2 separate regions of the Homo sapiens genome follow, and region 2 is linked to region 1. The links come from fine-mapping of genetic effects on gene expression. Tissue or cell type: monocytes. Region 1 holds a variant in brackets; the other region holds the start of a gene. All regions are shown on one strand. Distances are from middle to middle.

Region 1 (8,256 bases):
TCCCAAAGTGCTGGGATTACAGGTGTGAGCTACTACACCCCCTGAGTGGTCCTGTCTAAAATGCATCCAGTGGCCAGGCATGGTGGCTCACACCTGTAATCCCAGCACTTTGGGAGGCCAAGGCAGGCAGATTACTTGCGGTCAGGAGTTCGAGACCAGCCTAGGCAACATGGTGAACCCCTGTCTCTAGTAAAAATACAAAAATCAGTCAGGTGTGGTGGCAGGTGTCAGTAATCCCAGCTAGTTGGAGGCTGAGGCAGGAGAATTGCTTGAACCCAGGAGGTGGAGGTTGCAACGAGCCAGGATTGCGCCACTACACTCCAGCCTGGATGACAGAGTGAGACTCCATCTCAAAAAAAAAAAAGTGTCCAGTGCTGGGAGTTGCCCCATAAGAAGAGAGTGGCTGGTGCTCAGTGGAGGTGCTCAAGCTAAGGGTGCCCTGTCCCCTGACCCTAGCCACCCTGACCTTGGCTTCTCAGCTGTCTCCTCAACTCTGGGAGTCTGCTGGGCTCTGCCACCCAGGCTGGAGTGCAGTGGTGAGTTTGATATGGTTTGGATCTGTGTCCCTGCCCACATCTCATAATGAAATGTAATCCTCAGTGTTGGAGGAGGGGCCTGGTAGTAGGTGACTGGATCATGGGGGCGGATTTCTCATGAAGAGGTTAGCACCATCCGCTTGGTCCTGTCCTGATAACAGAGAGTTATCTGCTTGTTTGAAAGTGTGTGGCACCTCCCCCTCACTCTCTAGCTCCTGCTTCGCCTCCGCCCTGAGTAAAAGCTCCCTGATGCCTCCCCAAGAAGATGCTCATGGCCATACTTCCTCCACAGCCTGTAGAACGTTGAGCCAATCAAACCTCTTTATAAATTACCCAGTCTCAGCCAGGCACAGTGGCTCACACCTGTAATCCCAGCACTTTGGGAGGCTGAGGCGGGCTGATCACAAGGTCAGGAGATCGAGACCATCCTGGCTAACACGGTGAAACCCGATTTCTACTAAAAATACAAAAAAAAAAAAAAAAATTATCCGGGCATGGTGGCAGGCACCTGTAGTCCCAGCTACTCAGGAGGCTGAGGCAGGAGAATGGCATGAACCCAGGAGGTGGAGCTTGCAGTGAGCCGAGATCGCGCCACTGCACTCCAGCCTGGGCGACAGAGCGAGACTCTGTCTCAAAAAATAAATAAATAAATAAATAAATAAATAAAAATAAATTACCCAGTCTCAGGTAATTGCCCTTTACAAACCTTATCACAACCTACACTGACCATCTACAACATGTTTGGACTTTCTGACGTGTCTGATACTTCTCTCTTTTCTAGTCATTTTACTTTAGGATAAGAATTTACCACATAATATCCTTTCTTATATAAAATTATTTTATTTTCTTCATATCCTTACCAAAAATACATCTTCATAGCCAAAACTTGTTTTATTACTCTCTCCCCTACCTATTAGTTTCTTTTTATCTTTCTTCATAAATAACTTTTAAACAACTTTCAAATTACATAAAATTATTTTTTCTCTCAATAACACAATTTACAGAATTATATATTAATTAGAATTCCTATTCTTAGTAACCTTAAATTTTAGTGAAAACCCAGGAAGCAAGAAATCTTGAACTATCAGATGTTATTTTGTAAATGAAACAATTCCATAATTTTTAGAAACACATTTTCCCATAGCACAGTCTTTTCTGAATTGGAAATGACCCAGACATCTGTGGGCAGCAAGCCATCCAGGTGCCGAGACAAGAGACCAAGGGCACGAGCTATTCCAGTATAATAAAATATATAAAACAACAAGAGTTATACTAGATCTAGATCACAGACATGATTATATATGAATATCATTAATCATTAGTTTGTAGCAATTGCTCTTTATTCCAATATTATAATAATCCTTGCTCTATAATCATAACCTAGGAAAAACCAGGCCATACAGAGATGGGGGCTGAGGGGACATGGTGAGAAGTGACCAGAAGACGATAGTGCGAGCCTTCTGTTATGCCCAGACAGGGTCACCAGAGGGCTCCTTGGTCTAGCGGTAACACCAGCGTCTGGGAAGATGCCCGTTGCCAGGCAGACCGTGGTCTAGCAGTAGCATCAGTGTCAAGGAAAAACACCTGCTACTTAGGAGTCTCCCTTTCCCTGGGGGAGTTTAGAGAAGACTCTGCTCCTCCACCTCTTGTGGAGGGCCTGACATCAGTTAGGCTCGCCCGCAGTTATCCGGAGGCCTAACCGTCTCCCTGTGATGCTGTGCTTCAGTGGTCACGCTCCTAGTCCGCCTTCATGTTCCATCCTGCACACCTGGCTTTGCCTTTTAGATAACAGTAGCAAATTAGTGAAAGTACTAAAAGTCTATGATAAGCAGAAATAATGGCGTAAGCTGTCTCTCTCTCTCTCTCCCCCTCTCTCTCTGCCTCGGCTGCCAGGCAGGAAAGGGCCCCCTGTCCAGTGGACATGTGACCCACATGACCTTACCTATCATTGGAGATGACTCACACTCTTTACCCTGTCCCTTTTGGTTTGTATCCAATAAATAACAGTGCAGCCAGGCATTCGGGGCCACTACCGGTCTCCGCGTCTTGGTGGTGGTGGTCCCCCAGGCCCAGCTGTCTTTTCTTTTTATCTCTTTGTCTTGTGTCTTTATTTCTACAATCTCTCATCTCCGCACATGGGGAGCAGAACGCACCAACACTGTGGGGCTGGTCCCTACATCCGGCGCTCCAACGTGGGGCTCTCTCTCGCTGTGTGAAGTTGCACCCTGAGTGTGGGATTCAGCAGAGGATTTTGACCAGAGATTCCTGAGGATTGTGGTCAGTAAGCTTGGTGGTAAGCTAGAGCACTCAGAGTATTCCGGGGACACCATGGGACAAGCCAGTACTAAGTACTCAGCTTATTTAAGCTTTATAAAAACCCTCCTGTTTTATCTCAACCCTGTCCCTGTTCAGCCCTGCTGTAGGGGTCTCAACCTTCTGCCTGTTCCGCCCGGTAATGAGGCCCTCAACCCTATCCCTCCATAGCCTGGTTTTCTCATGCCTGTTTCCTTTCCTCCTAATCAGACTCGGTTAGAGTCACAGGCTCCCTTGAAACCTGGTTCCTTTCCTACTAATCCGACTCCCCTGGAGTCACAGACTCCTTTGAAGCCTGGTCCGCAGTTGCCACAGCAGCCTGAATTTCAGGCCCATGAAGGACGTGCTCGGCAGGTAATCTCGTCTACCCTTGCTGCTCACAAGCAACAAGTTACATAGATTCCTCAAAATGACACTCCTCTTATGAGGGCTATAGCACAGGCAAGAAAATATGGGGATCCCAACGCCTGGCAATTTCCTGTAATTTTACAACCTCCAATACCTGCCGTCCCTGCGGCACAAAATCAGCCACAGCCTGCTGATCTTACTCAGCAGGCAGCTGATCTCGCGGCACCTTCACGCTCCGTGTTAATATCTTGTTTTTCTGCAGGACAACAAACAGTTGCAGCAGCCGGTTTGGTTACTGCGCCCCCTCCACAAAAAAAAAATCCAGACTTCTTCTCCTTATCACTATTTAGCAATGCAGCTAGAAGTCAGGTTATTAAGCCCAAAAAAATCATTGTTCCCCTCACCCGATTAGAAGTTCAACAGGCTTTTGCAACCTGTATCACTTGGCAAGTACACTTGGCAGGTTTCTCGGGTATAATTGACAATCACTATCCTAATGTAAAATTATTTCAGTTCCTTAAACTCACTTCTTGGATTTTACCTAACATTACTAGAAACACCCCATTAGCTGAAGCTGTCACTGTTTTTACTGATGCTTCCTGTAATGGCCGAGCAGCATATACAGG[T/G]CCCAGAGAACGTGTTCTTAACACAGGGGCTATTTCAGCACAACGAGCTGAACTGCCTGCTGTTATGACCGTCTTTGAAGATTTCCCTGAACCAGTTAACATTGTCTCTGACTCAGCGTATGTAGTACATGTTGCTCGCAACATTGAAACTGCCTTAATCCAATTTCTGCCCGATGATAACCTATTCTTTCTTTTTCAAAGGTTTCAGTCTGTGCCCAGAGCAAGGTCTTCTCCTTTCTACATTGCTCACATTCGGGCCCACACACCCCTCCCCAGACCCCTCTCGGCAGCAAATGCCAGAGCTCATACATTAGTTCCTCCCGTTTTTACAGATGCAGAAAATTTTCATGCTTTAACACCTGTCAATGCTGCAGGACTCCGGAAAAAGTTCCCCTTACATGGAAACAAGCTAAAACCATTGTTCGTCACCGTCCTACTTGCCAAGTGTTAATCTTACAGCCACTTTCCTCAGGAGTTAACCCTAGAGGACTTTCACAGAATGCTCTCTGGCAAATGGACGTGACTCATTATCCTGCTTTTGGCAAGCTTTCTTTTATACATGTAACTATCGACACTTTTTCTCATTTTATCTGGGCCACTTGTCACGCAGGGGAAAGTACAGCTCATGGTAAACGACATATGCGTTCCTGTTTCTCCGTTATGGGCTGTCCCGAGAAACTGAAAACTGATAACAGCCCCAGCTACACTAGTGCTGCTTTTAAAAAGTTCACTGAGACGTGGGCAATTGCTCACACAACCAGCATCCCCTGTAACTCTCGAGGACAGGCCTCGGTGGAACGAGCCAATAAAACACTGAAAGGTCAACTTCGAAAGCAGGACATAAAACAAAGGGGGATGGCACCACACCTCATGCTCAGTTAAACCTGCCTCTTTTTACACGAGCTTTCTTACACCCAGCAAGAAACCAAACTTTACAGCCACAGAACCACATGTCACTGGAAATAAATTTGATCCACAAAAACGAATGCGGGTATGGTGAAAGGACGCAAAAACTAACAAATGGGAATTAGACAGAGTCATAACTTGGGCTAGGGCTTTCGCTTGTGTTTCCCCAGGAAAAGGACAACAACCCGCGTGGGTTCCCTCCCAGCGACTGAAATTGCATTATAACTCCAAGGATGAGGCACTCTGAGAAACAAAAGGACTGCCAGCCTGCTCCAAGAAACCTACAAAGGGGCCTTTTTTCTTTTTTTAACTAAATTCAATCTTATGAAATGATTCTAATACTCCGAAGGCCATACTGTTCCAAACCCTACCTACGGGTGTTGTTATTGACTGGGCTCCAAAAGGGCATTATTGGCGAAATTGCTCCACCCAAAATACAAAATGCTCGGAGTTTAACTATTTGTTAGATTATATAGAGGATGGGCCGGGCACAGTGGCTCATGCCTGTAATCCCAGCACTTTGGGAGGCCGAGGCGGGTGGATCACAAGGTCAGGAGATCAAGATCATCCTGGCTAACACAGTGAAAACCCGTCTCTACTAAAAAACAAAAAATTAGCTGGGCGTGGTGGCAGGCGCCTGTAGTCCCAGCTACTCGGGAGGCTGAGGTAGGAGAATGGCGTAAACCCAGGAGGCAGAGCTTGCAGTGAGCCAAGATCGCGCCACTGCACTCCAGCCTGGGCAACAAAGCAAGACTCCATCTCAAAAAAAAAAAGAAAGAAAAGAAAAAAGATCATATAGAGGATGGATGGCAGTCATACAGGTTGAGACAATGGGTGTCTCCTTACCCATTTAAATGGATGGACGCAGGCATTGTTCCCCCTACACCAAAAATGATTCATCCCATTGTTACCCCAGAACATCCTGAATTATGGAAATTGCTGCAGCTATGACAGGAATAAGGATACGGAACACTACCTATCAACTCCTTCACACTAATACCAAAACACACACATTCAACATCACCTTGATATCTGAACAGGTGATACCCATCAGGAGCTGTGTCAAACCCCCTTACATGCTGTTGGTTGGAAATATAATTATCATTCCCAGTACACAAACTGTAGAATGTGATAACTGTCAGCTGTTCACATGCATTGATGCTACTTTCATTCCCACTACAAGTATTCTCTTGGTACGGGCTAGGGAGGAGGTATGGATACCAGTTTCTCTACATCGTCCTTGGGAGTCTTCCCCCTCTATTCACATAGTCAATGAAGTTCTTAAAGTTATCCTCAAAAGAACAAAGAGATTTATTTTTACTCTTATTGCCGTCATTGCAGGTCTAATTGCAGTTACTGCAGCAGCAGCAGCTGCTGGAGTTGCCATCTACAATTATGTTCAAACCGCTCAATATGTTAAAGCACGGCAGAAAAACTCCTCCGGACTTTGGAATTCTCAGGCTCAAATTGATAAAAAATTAGCCAATCAAATTAATGATCTCCGTCAAAGTGTAATGTGGCTCAGAGACAGAGTTATGAATTTGGAACACCTTATGCAATTACAGTGTGATTGGAATACTTCTGACTATTGCATAATGCCTTATGCTTATAATAAAGGTCAACATAGCTGGGAAAAGGTCTCAAGACATTTAAAAGCCTGGGATGATAACTTAACCTTGGATATTTCAAAACTTAAAGAGCAAATTTTTGAGGCTTCACAAGCTCATTCATCCACTGTTCCTGGCTCAGACATTTTTGAAGGAATAACTAAAGAATTATCTGATCTTAATCCCTTTAAATGGATCAAACCCCTTGGAGGATCATTGTTGTCACTGGCATTATTAGTATTGGTATGCTTATGTTGTCTCCGTTTAGTCTGCAGATGCCTCCAAGGAGTCCGAAAACAAGTCCGAAGTCAATGACAAGCAATGATGGCGATGGTGATCCTAGTTAATATAAAGGGGGGAGATGTGGGCAGCAAGCCACCCAGGTGCCGAGGCAAGAGACTGAGGGCACGAGCTGTTCCAGTATAATAAAATATATAAAACAACAAGAGTTATGCTAGATCTAGATCATAGACATGATTATATATGAATATCATTAATCATTAGTTTGTAGCAATTACTCTTTATTCCAATATTATAATAATCCTCGCTCTATAATCATAACCTAGGAAAAAGCAGGCCATATAGAGATGGGAGCTGAGGGGACATGGTGAGAAGTGACCAGAAGACAAGTGCGAGCCTTCTGTTATGCCCGGACAGGGCCACCAGAGGGCTCCTTGGTCTAGCGGTAACACCAGCGTCTGGGAAGATGCCCGTTGCCAAGCAGACCGTGGTCTAGTGGTAGCGTCAGTGTCAAGGAAAAACACCTGCTACTTAGCAGACCGGGAAAGGGAGTCTCCCTTTCCCCGGGGGAGTTTAGAGAAGACTCTACTCCTCCACCTGCATCTGTAAAAACGGGAGTAACTAATGTATCAGCTCTAGCATTTGCTGCGAGAGGGGTCCGGGGAGGGGTGTGTGGGCCCAAATGTGAGTAATGTAGAAAGGAGAAGACCTTGCTCTGGGCACAGACTGAAACCTTTGAAAAAGAAAGAATAGGTCATCATCAGGCAGAAATTGGATTAAGGCAGTTTCAATTGTTGTGAGCAACATGTAGTACCTACGCTGAATCAGAGACAATGTTAACTGGTTCAGGGAAATCTTCAAGGACGGTCATAACAGCACAAATCTCATCTTGAATTGTACTCCCATAATTCCCACAGGTTGTGGGAGGGAGAAGGTGGGAGGTAATTTGAATCATGGGGGCAGTTTCCCCCACACCGTTCTCAAGGTAGTGAATAAGTCTCATGAGATCTGATGGTTTTATCAGGGGTTTCTGCTTTTGCATCTTCTTCATTTTCTCTTGCCACCGCCTTGTAAGAAGTGCCTTTCACCTCCCGTCATGATTCTGAGGCCTCCCCAGCCATGTGGAACTGTAAGCCCAATTAAACCTCTTTTTCTTCTTAGTCTCAGGTATGTTTTTATCAGCAGTGTGAAAATGTACAAATACACCTAGTGAGGAGAGGGGCAGCCTATCTTGCTACTTTCTGACAACCAGATGGACCTAGTCTTGGCCATTGGGATGCAGACTGTGCCTAAGCACCCTCAGAGGGGGGTGCAACACTAAACAGAGACACAAACACAAATAGATCCAATGTAGACACAGCCCTCCAAACAGATCCCTCCAAACAGAGGGGAGATTGGAGCAAAGTCCTGAGGTCCTGTCCCAGACCCAGACAGCACCATGGAGTGACCTGCGTTAGGTCCAGATGGCACAGAGACCCAGGCAGCACCACAGAGTGACCTGCGTTAGGTCCAGATGGCACAGAGACCCAGGCGGCACCACAGAGTGACCTGTGTTAGGTCCAGATGGCACAGAGACCCAGGCGGCACCACAGAGCGACCTGCGTTAGGTCGAGATGGCACAGAGACCCAGGCGGCACCACAGAGTTACCTGCGTTAGGTCCAGATGGCACAGAGACCCAG
Region 2 (8,000 bases), 32 kb after region 1:
ACAGGGGCCTGCCCAGGGCCACACAGCTCTGCACACTGCTCCCACGGAGGAAAGCAGCCGGGAGGATCCCACCCCGGGGGGCTGCCAGGGAGGTGGGCTCGGTTTGTCCGCTGAAGGAACCCCTCATCCTGGCCTTCACAAGGGAAGGGGCTGGGCCCTGGGAGAGAGGAGGCTGTAGCTGGGGGCTCCAGGCCGCAGGGCCCAGCCTGGGTGTGTCCTGCAGCTCCTGCTGAGGCTGGGCCCAGGCCTCCCAGCCACGTGTGCCCAGCTGTTTGTAGGTCCTTTGAAGGGCTGTGTGCCAGGTGTTTGTGCGCCCCCGTGTGGGGCCGATGACAGCTGTGCACCTGGTGTCTTCGTGTGCCTGGCTGCCAGCGCGTGTGCCCTGTGCGCTGTGTGTGCCGCAGGGTCCGTGTCTGTGGGGGGGTCCATGTGTACAAGGGGTGTGTCTCCAGGCCTGTGCTCTCACGTGTGCGGCCAGCCCCCCGCGTGCATGCGGGGCAGCATTTATTTGCACTTGTGCACATAGTAGCCTGTGAGGTAGCCCAGGATGAAGATGATCCAGAAGAGGGCCACGCCGCCCAGCACCTTCATGGCGATGCCCAGCTTGCCCGTGCACAGCCTCTGGGAGATCCTGGGGTGAGAACCAACTGGAGGTGAGCCCCAGGCCAGGGCCGCATGAGGGGCCCCCTAAGTGGACTGTGGCCGTTGGTCTGGGTCAGGGGGAGGGGCCTGGGCGCTCTGCTGGAGTCAAGAGGAAGCTCTCCCCGCCCACAGCCAACCAGAGGGAAGGCCAAAGGCTGCGGTTTGCTGAGCTGCTGGACCGTGGGCTCCCAGCCAGGATGGGGTGGAGGGTGATGGGGCCGGTAGCAGGGGTTAGGGCAGGCGTCTCTGGAGGGAGACACCAGCCTGCTATGGCTGGCAGGCTGCCCTCAGGCCCCTCACCTGCGGCAGCGTGAGGCCTCTTCTGTGCTGGACACAGCCCCTAGGCTGACTCCGTCCCTGCTGCCGTCCTCCCACCTACTATAGTGGACGTGGCTCTCCTGGGGCTGCATGCTGTGGGGCTGCAGCGGGAGGGGCGGGGCCTTCTCGGTGGGGAGATCAAGACAGGTGGCCAGGCTGTGGCTTCACTGTAAAACAAGCGGATGGAGGGCGGCAGTCAAGACCCCCTCTGAGGCTGCTGTTAGGAGAGGGGCACTAAGGGTCGGGGGCTGACTCCCTCACCGGGTCTGTCGCCTGACTTAACAGGTGACCTAGACACAAAGTGGTAGAGTCATTTGCCCAGGGTCAGGCCGGGAGGATGGGACCAAGCGAGAATTCCATCTCAGGCCAAGCCCTGACCTCAGGCATGTGGGAGGCCAGTGTTTCCTTCCAGCACACTCCAGGAGCCTCCCTTCCCCGGTGCTTTTATCAGGGAGCCTGCACAGCCTGCCACCCTCAAGAGACGAGGACATTGTGGCCCAATCTAGGCTGCAGCCCCTGATAACTGTCCCCCTCCTTAACCCTGCCCGATAAGGCGCCTTCTGGCCTCTGGGGAGGCTGGCCAGGGGAGGGGGGGGTGGGGCAGGGCAGCAGGTCCGGGGCAGCGGCTGGTACAGCTAGACCGGTCCCTGTCTGGGGAGGATGCGTGGCTGGCCCCAGGCAGTGGCAGCAGCTGTGTCCTCAGCCTGTGTGGGTTGCAGCCCCTCCCCCACCCACACCTCTAGGAGGGCTGGGGCTTGGGGGGCATGATGCACTGAGCACGGGGCCGGGGTGGATTCAAGGCCTTGGGGAGGCCCTACAGAGACAGGAGGGTCGTAGGGCTGGGTGGCTGCCCAGAGCAGGAGGGGCCCGGCCCCAAGGCCAGCTCCCTGCTGGGCTCCAACTCCTGCAGACCTGGGACTCATCTTTGCATCTCGGCACTCAGCTCGGTGCCTGGCAGCCCAAGTGCCCAGAGGGGCGAGGAGACCACGGGGACTGAGCAGGAACTCCAAGCACTAGCACAGCTGCCCGGCCGGCCTGAGCCAGCCCGGACTCTAAGCACCTCCTTTACCCTCTGGCCTCTGTTTCGACCTCCTATTTACCTAAGGGGGTGTGGGGGTGGAGGAGTTGGAGGGGGCACGAGAAGTTGACAACCCACCCAGGCTGTGGGACTGGGGTCAGCTCTCTGGTCTGCTGGGCCCCCAGTGTCCCCTCTCAGCATCTGGCCCCCAGGAGTGGGGTCCTCGGGCAGGCAATGGCAGGCCCCTCACTTCTAGGAGCTGAGGCTTTGCTGGGCCCCCTCCAGCGGGGAAGGCTGACCTTCCTCCCAGGTCATCGGCACAGAGGCCTAAAGGCACAGCAGCCACTCCCCTGCAAGAAGCCAGCTCAGAAACTCAGGCCCCAGGCAGTTCTGAGACTCCCGGCACTTCCATGTCTGCCTTCCCCCAAAGCCCAGAGAGGCAGAAGGAGCTGTCTCAAAGCCATAAAGTGTGCCTTCGGTGGGAGCCCTGGCTCAGTGCAGCCTGGCACTCAGGCCCGGAGAGGCCCAGCCTCTACTGGAGTATGGGTGCTGTTTTCCCGGAGCATGTGGAGCGGTCAGCTGCCTACCCGAGGTTCACGCCCTCTTGCCTGGTGTGCAGAATCCCATTCTGGTCCCAGCAGCAATGTGCCAGCCCCAGGTAACAGCCATGACCCGGGTAAGACAAGCTTAATACCACCACCCCTGCTTTCCCAAGTCACCCAGCTGGGGTCCAGGAGCCAGGGTGCAGCAGGGGATGGGAGAGTTTGCTTCTGTGAAAGCAGCAGCAGCCACCTCCTTCTTCCAGACTCGACGTGATGGCTGGAGCTGCTGGAGCTGCAGCAGCCGCCTTGCAACCCGACATCCACGCAGCATTAGTCTCGGGAGTGCTGAGGCTCCAAGTCCACAGCAGCAGCCCACCATGGGCCTCCCGGTGGGAGGGGTCAAGCCCAGTGTGTTCAACTCTGGGATCATGGGTTCCTGTCTTGCTGACGTAGAACACGTTGTTCCCAAGTCACCCCGGTGCACAGCCACCAGAGCCGGCCCTTGAGGCTGGCCTCCCTCACTTGCTCAGTAAACGTCTCTCCACACTCATGTGATGGTCACAGGTGTGGCGGCAGGAACCCATCAGGGACTCCCCTCCAGGCCCTGGGAGGCTCCCGGATCCTGGCACCTCCTGGGGGCTTGTGAGTGCAGGAAGGCCCTAGGTACACAGGCGCCCCTCCATAGACCTCTTCACCCCACAGCGCCTCAGGGCCCCACACTTACCCGGAGAACCTTGCCTGAGGGCTGGGGCCTCTGGGCCAGGTTGCGGTCAGGGCCTGGCCAGCGGCCCGCACCTCCCAGCGGGGCAGGTCGTGGGCTGAGGTGCGGCAGACGCCTCGAGCCTAAAAAAATAAAGGTGACCGGAGAAGCCGATCTTGCTAAGGGCCGGGAAGGGAAAGTGGCTGGTGTCGGGGGTCCCCAGCAGCCACAAGGAGCCGGGCAAGGAGCCGGGCGGGCAGTTCCGGCCCTGGCCCCGCACCGCGGGTTAGGCCGGTGGGGGTCAGTCCAGGGCACGCCCCCACCCCCGCCAGTTCTCAGCCAGCGAGGCCGCGCACAGTCGCACCTGCCCACTGCGGCCGCACCGGGAAGCCGCAGCCCGGACCCCGCGCGCCTCACCTGTGTCCCCGCGTCTCTGGGCTCCGCAGGGGCCGGGCCTGGGCAGGGGGCGAGGGCGGGGGCGGGGCCACGCGGGGAAGGGCTGGAGCCAGCAGCGGGGAGGTGTCTGGTCCGGAAGGTGGCGGGGCTAGAGTGGTGGGCGGGGCCATGCGGGGAAGGTCTGGGGCCAGTAGCGGGGAGGCGCCTGGTCCAGAAGGGGCCGGGGGCGGGGCGAGAGGGGGCGGGGCGAGAGGGGGGCGGGGCCATGCGGGGAAGGGCTAGGGCCGCAGCGGGGAGGCGCCTGGTCCAGAAGGGGCTGGGGGCGGGGCGAGTGGGGCCGGGAGACGCCTCGTCCGGAAGGGGCCGGGGCTCTAGGCCGCCCAGCCCCGGGGCCAGGAGGTGCAGGGGGGCCGGGCAGGGTCTGCAGAGGGCTGCACTTTCTGCCCCCAGACGGCTCGCCCTTGGGGCCTCCAGGGTCCCCGACCTCCTTCACCCCTGCTGGAGCCCCTCCGACGCCACGAGCCTCCCAGCCCCGCGGGGACCCGGCTGCAGCGCCGACGAGACTGCGGGAGGCTCTGGGCGCGTCTGGGCCTGAATGCTGGGTTCGGGGACCCGGCCGCGGGGACCGTCCTCCTCCGGGGCTTGAGGGGCGTGGCGCCCGCACGTGGCCCACGCTCGGTGCTCGCGGCGGGAAGGGAAGCAGGTGTGGGTGGGGAGCAGAGAAGGGTAATGGGGAGAGTCCCTTCCGAAGGTGTTCAGGCGCCCAGAGCCTCAGAGGCGCCGGGGAAGCGTCGGGGACCACAGACACCGTTCCCGTGCGTAAAGCTTTCCTTCCAGGAGCGGGGGGATGGGAACAGAGCCCCCCACCCTCACCATCTTCCAGAGGGGTCCTCCAGCAAGAGAGTGCCCCAGCCAGGAGAGCCCCCAGGGCAGAAGGTCACAGACCCCTTCTGCTCAGGCGTGAGGTCTGTGCTGAGTGCTGGGCGGACACCCCGGCTCAGGCCTCTGGCAGCCTGGTGCCGCAAGGGGACCTGTTAGGAGCTAGGGGCACAGGCTGGTGTGCTGACTCCCTGTGAGTGAGCTTTGGAATGGGGAGTGTCCTTGTAGCTCAAGGTCGCAGAGGAGAGTAGGCCCCCGCGTGGATCCCAGAGAAGAAAAAGGTGGGACAGTGCCAACACCGGGGTTTAATTCTGAGTCTGAGAGCAGGACGCATGGTGGGGGCGGGTGGTTCTGGAGCTGGGCCCCGGCCTCTGCTGGGCTGACCGTATTTGGGGGCCTGGCTGGGCCTACTTGGAGGTCCCCTTCTTGGATTTGCTGGTCAGGAAGGCCTCTGACTGTTGCAGGGGGGGCACTTTGACGCCTTTCTGCTTCAGCTGATTATAGTAGTCGCTTCTCTCTGAGATAATTCTCTACACAAGAAACACAGCCGTCGAGGTGGCCTTCCCAGTTCCTCACCTTGGCCTTGAGGCCGGTCTGCACAGTCCGTGCCAGCTGCCCGGGACGCCACCCTCTCCTCCTCCTCCAGAGAGGCTTGCTGCAGCAGGGGTGTGCTGGTGAATACTTACAACCGGCTCTCCAGGGGGAGAAAAAACAAACAACCCTCGGCTTTGTGGCGTTGCCAGTTTCTGTGGTGGGAATATTCCCACAGTGGCTGATTTTCAGCCACGGAAGTGAAGTCACAGAATGCGGAGCCGGGGGCAGGTGCACACCACCAGCCCGCAGAAGCCTGCACTAAGCCCCCTCTTCAGCCCTCTTAGAGTTGTGAGGAGCCCCAGACTCCTAGAGATCTTTGAGGTCGTCACATCTGTCCCTCAAGTCCCTTCTGTCCTGTACAGAGGGAATGTTGTCCCCACCTCTCTTCCATTCTCCTCTCTGGGCCGTTGCTGGTTCATGTCAGGCTATGGCAAGCAAGCAAAGGTGCTCTTCCCTGGCTACTGTGCGGTGGGAATAACTCCCTCCATCCTCTGTCTTCCCTCTTCTCTTCCTCTTTCTCTCCCCTTCCTCCTCCCCTCCCCCAGACAACAGTACCAAGGCCGCAGAGACCTCTCTCCACATTACAGCTCTGCAGGAGAGGCACTGTCCAGGGCCCCCCACTCTGCAGAGGAAGGGAACCAGGCCCCAGGAACGTGGGTGCTGGAAGGTCAGGGGCACACACTGGGGTTCAAGGGCAGCCCCAGAGGGTGAAGTGTGGGTCTTGGGAACAAAAGCAGCTCCTGGTGAGAGGTGACCCCTTCGTAGTACACAGCCCCACACAGAGCCATAGCCGGTGCCCGGCTCCCAGAGCTCTGAGTCTTACGACACCTTGCAGGTGAGCATGCGCTGTCCATCACAGAGGGAGGCATCTATGGCTCAGAAAAGTGAGTGTGTGGCCCCCAGCTGGTGGGTGGTGACCCCCTCATGCCCAGTGACCCCAAGGCCTGAATTCTCCTACACCCCTCTACTTCTCCGAGGCCCTTGCTTGGGGACCCCTGGTCAGGAAGGAGCCCAGGAGGCTGTGGCCGGGGTGGGAGGGGTCTGCACCAGGGCCCTGGATCAGTGGGTGGTGATACCAGCGGAGGGGACCAAGCTGGACAAAGCCGGGGCTGGGCTCCTGCTGTGGGAGAATCTTCGTGCCCTGAGCGGCTTGTCCCCTCTCCACAGCGCTCAGGATGGGTTGTGGCAGTTACTGCTGGTCTCTGATGCCCGTCCCCCGTTTTGCTGAGAGTAGCTAAGACTCCCGTGCCATGCCCCCACCTGCCTTAGGATGATTTGATCCCCTCTGCCTGAGCTGAGAGAAAGGAGGGTCCTGGGGTCCAAGTGAATAGGTGACACAGGTAGGATGAGAACAGAGTCCCTGGAATCTAGGCCCCCCACAACCCCCTACCACAGCTCTGGCCTGGGGGTCTGGGGCCCGGATAGAGGCAGCTGAGCTTAGGGGTATACCTGCAGGGCTTCCAGGATGTCATTGTCAGAGATCTCGTTGGCCAAGGACTTGGTCCCGGAGATGCTAAAGGTGGCCTGGATGATCTTATTCCTTAACCTCTCGAGCTGTGAGCAAAGGGACAACACTATCATTCGCCTTTACCCAAGAAGGCACCTGGCCAGTGGGCTGCACCCCCCACCACCTTATTTTTTATGTACCAGGAAGGAACAGCTCACCCTCACTTTTCATGGCTTTAGAAACTGGAAACAGGTGTCAGAGAAGTCAATGTGGATTGTCTGAGAGCTAGGAGGTGCCGGATCCAACCCCTGACCCTGTGCGGCCCAGCCCCAAAGCCCAAAGACTCTCCTACACCAGGTGGGCTTTTCTAATTGGAAAGTAAAACCTACACACACATATATATATATTTTTAAACCAACAAACCAAAATAGTACAGAAGCCGCACGTAACCCCTGGACCATCCTCCACTGCCCAGGGGAGCTGCAGTGAGCGGACTTCCTGGCCCTTGGGGACACTCTCACTTTAGGCATTTAACAGTGCGCTGCTGGTGCTTCCTCCTTTCCATGCTGACTAGGAGGTGTCTGTGCCATGGACAGCAGCGTTGAACCTGGCCCCCGCGCACAGACCCAGAAGGCGTTCTCGTCTTCTGCTGCCATGAAGATCCTTGTCTGCCTGTACACCCGCAGCCGCCTCCCCAGAGGTAGCTAATCGTGCCTCCCAGGAAGCTGCAGAGGAAACCCCTCCAATCTGCACCCCAGGAGCCTCAGACAGGAACCCCTTGAGTTATGCGGCACGCTCAGCACGAGTTCCTCGTCCAGAAACCCTGACGACGCAGAGGTGCCCCACAGGAGCTGGGCCCGAGAGGCTCAGCCTTGCCTCCGAGTGGAAGCATGTCCACACTGCCGCTCGGACAGGTTTAAGTGACAGCAGGAATGTCATGGGCCCCTGGCCTGTGTGAGGAGTGGAATCCTTTCCTTCTTTCCAGTATTTATTGAGCGCCCAACTTTGTACAAACACCGTGCCAGGTGCTGGAGGTCGTGAGGTCACAAGGGGCTGGGCCTCTGTACTGGGGGTCCCTCCCCAGGGTAGAGGTTGGCAGCTACCCGGGGTGTCCAGCCTCACTTCCCCACACCCGTGGGGCCTCACCATCAGGCTTGGCGCTAGTTCCTGCTCACCCGGACTTAGCTTCACAATATTTCTCAGCTCAGCTTTCCAGGCTCCACCAGGTCAGTGCAGGCTGGCGCACAAATGGACACACCTAGACCGCCTCTGGTCTAACGCTTTCACCAGGACTACGGCTGGATCCCAAACTGTTTTATCAAGGGATACCAGGGGTGGGTGCCTCAGTCTGACCCAGCCGGAAGGAGGTGGACTCAAGCAGGAAAGAGGACGCAGTTGAGTTGCAGTTGGCATTTCTGGTGGGAACCTGACTTCAAAAGCCTCCATACATGACCTTGACCTTTG

Which allele goes with the higher level. Alleles are on the strand shown, and positions count from the first base shown. SD is a standard deviation of normalised expression in the study named.
As copies of G replace T in region 1, the expression in monocytes of the gene that starts at base 3,677 in region 2 goes down (large effect, 0.83 SD a copy in Fairfax 2014).

What was found. PIP is the estimated chance that this variant, and not a neighbour inherited with it, causes the effect.
Region 2: it holds the start of SMIM1, and the variant in region 1 is fine-mapped to the expression of SMIM1 in monocytes (Fairfax 2014, PIP 0.95).

What each region holds. Positions count from the first base shown.
Region 1 is chr1:3,800,391-3,808,646 of GRCh38, reverse strand. No RefSeq gene overlaps it. Among named protein-coding and RNA genes, the nearest start is that of LRRC47, 8.0 kb to the right of the region's middle. The variant T/G (reference allele first, on the strand shown) is at 3,824.
Region 2 is chr1:3,768,426-3,776,425 of GRCh38, reverse strand. It overlaps SMIM1 (small integral membrane protein 1 (Vel blood group)), which reads right to left and starts at 3,677. Exons shown (of 4, transcript NM_001288583.2): 1 at 3,638-3,677; 2 at 3,245-3,363; 3 at 943-1,127; 4 at 470-631. The coding sequence starts at 1,052. The coding sequence ends at 505. It overlaps CCDC27 (coiled-coil domain containing 27), which reads right to left. Exons shown (of 12, transcript NM_152492.3): 11 at 6,539-6,643; 12 at 4,781-5,025. The coding sequence ends at 4,903. RefSeq lists enhancers at 775-834, 750-1,265, 1,414-1,558, 2,298-2,813, 2,814-3,329 and 1 more, cis regulatory regions at 1,462, 1,454-1,470 and a silencer at 3,391-4,270.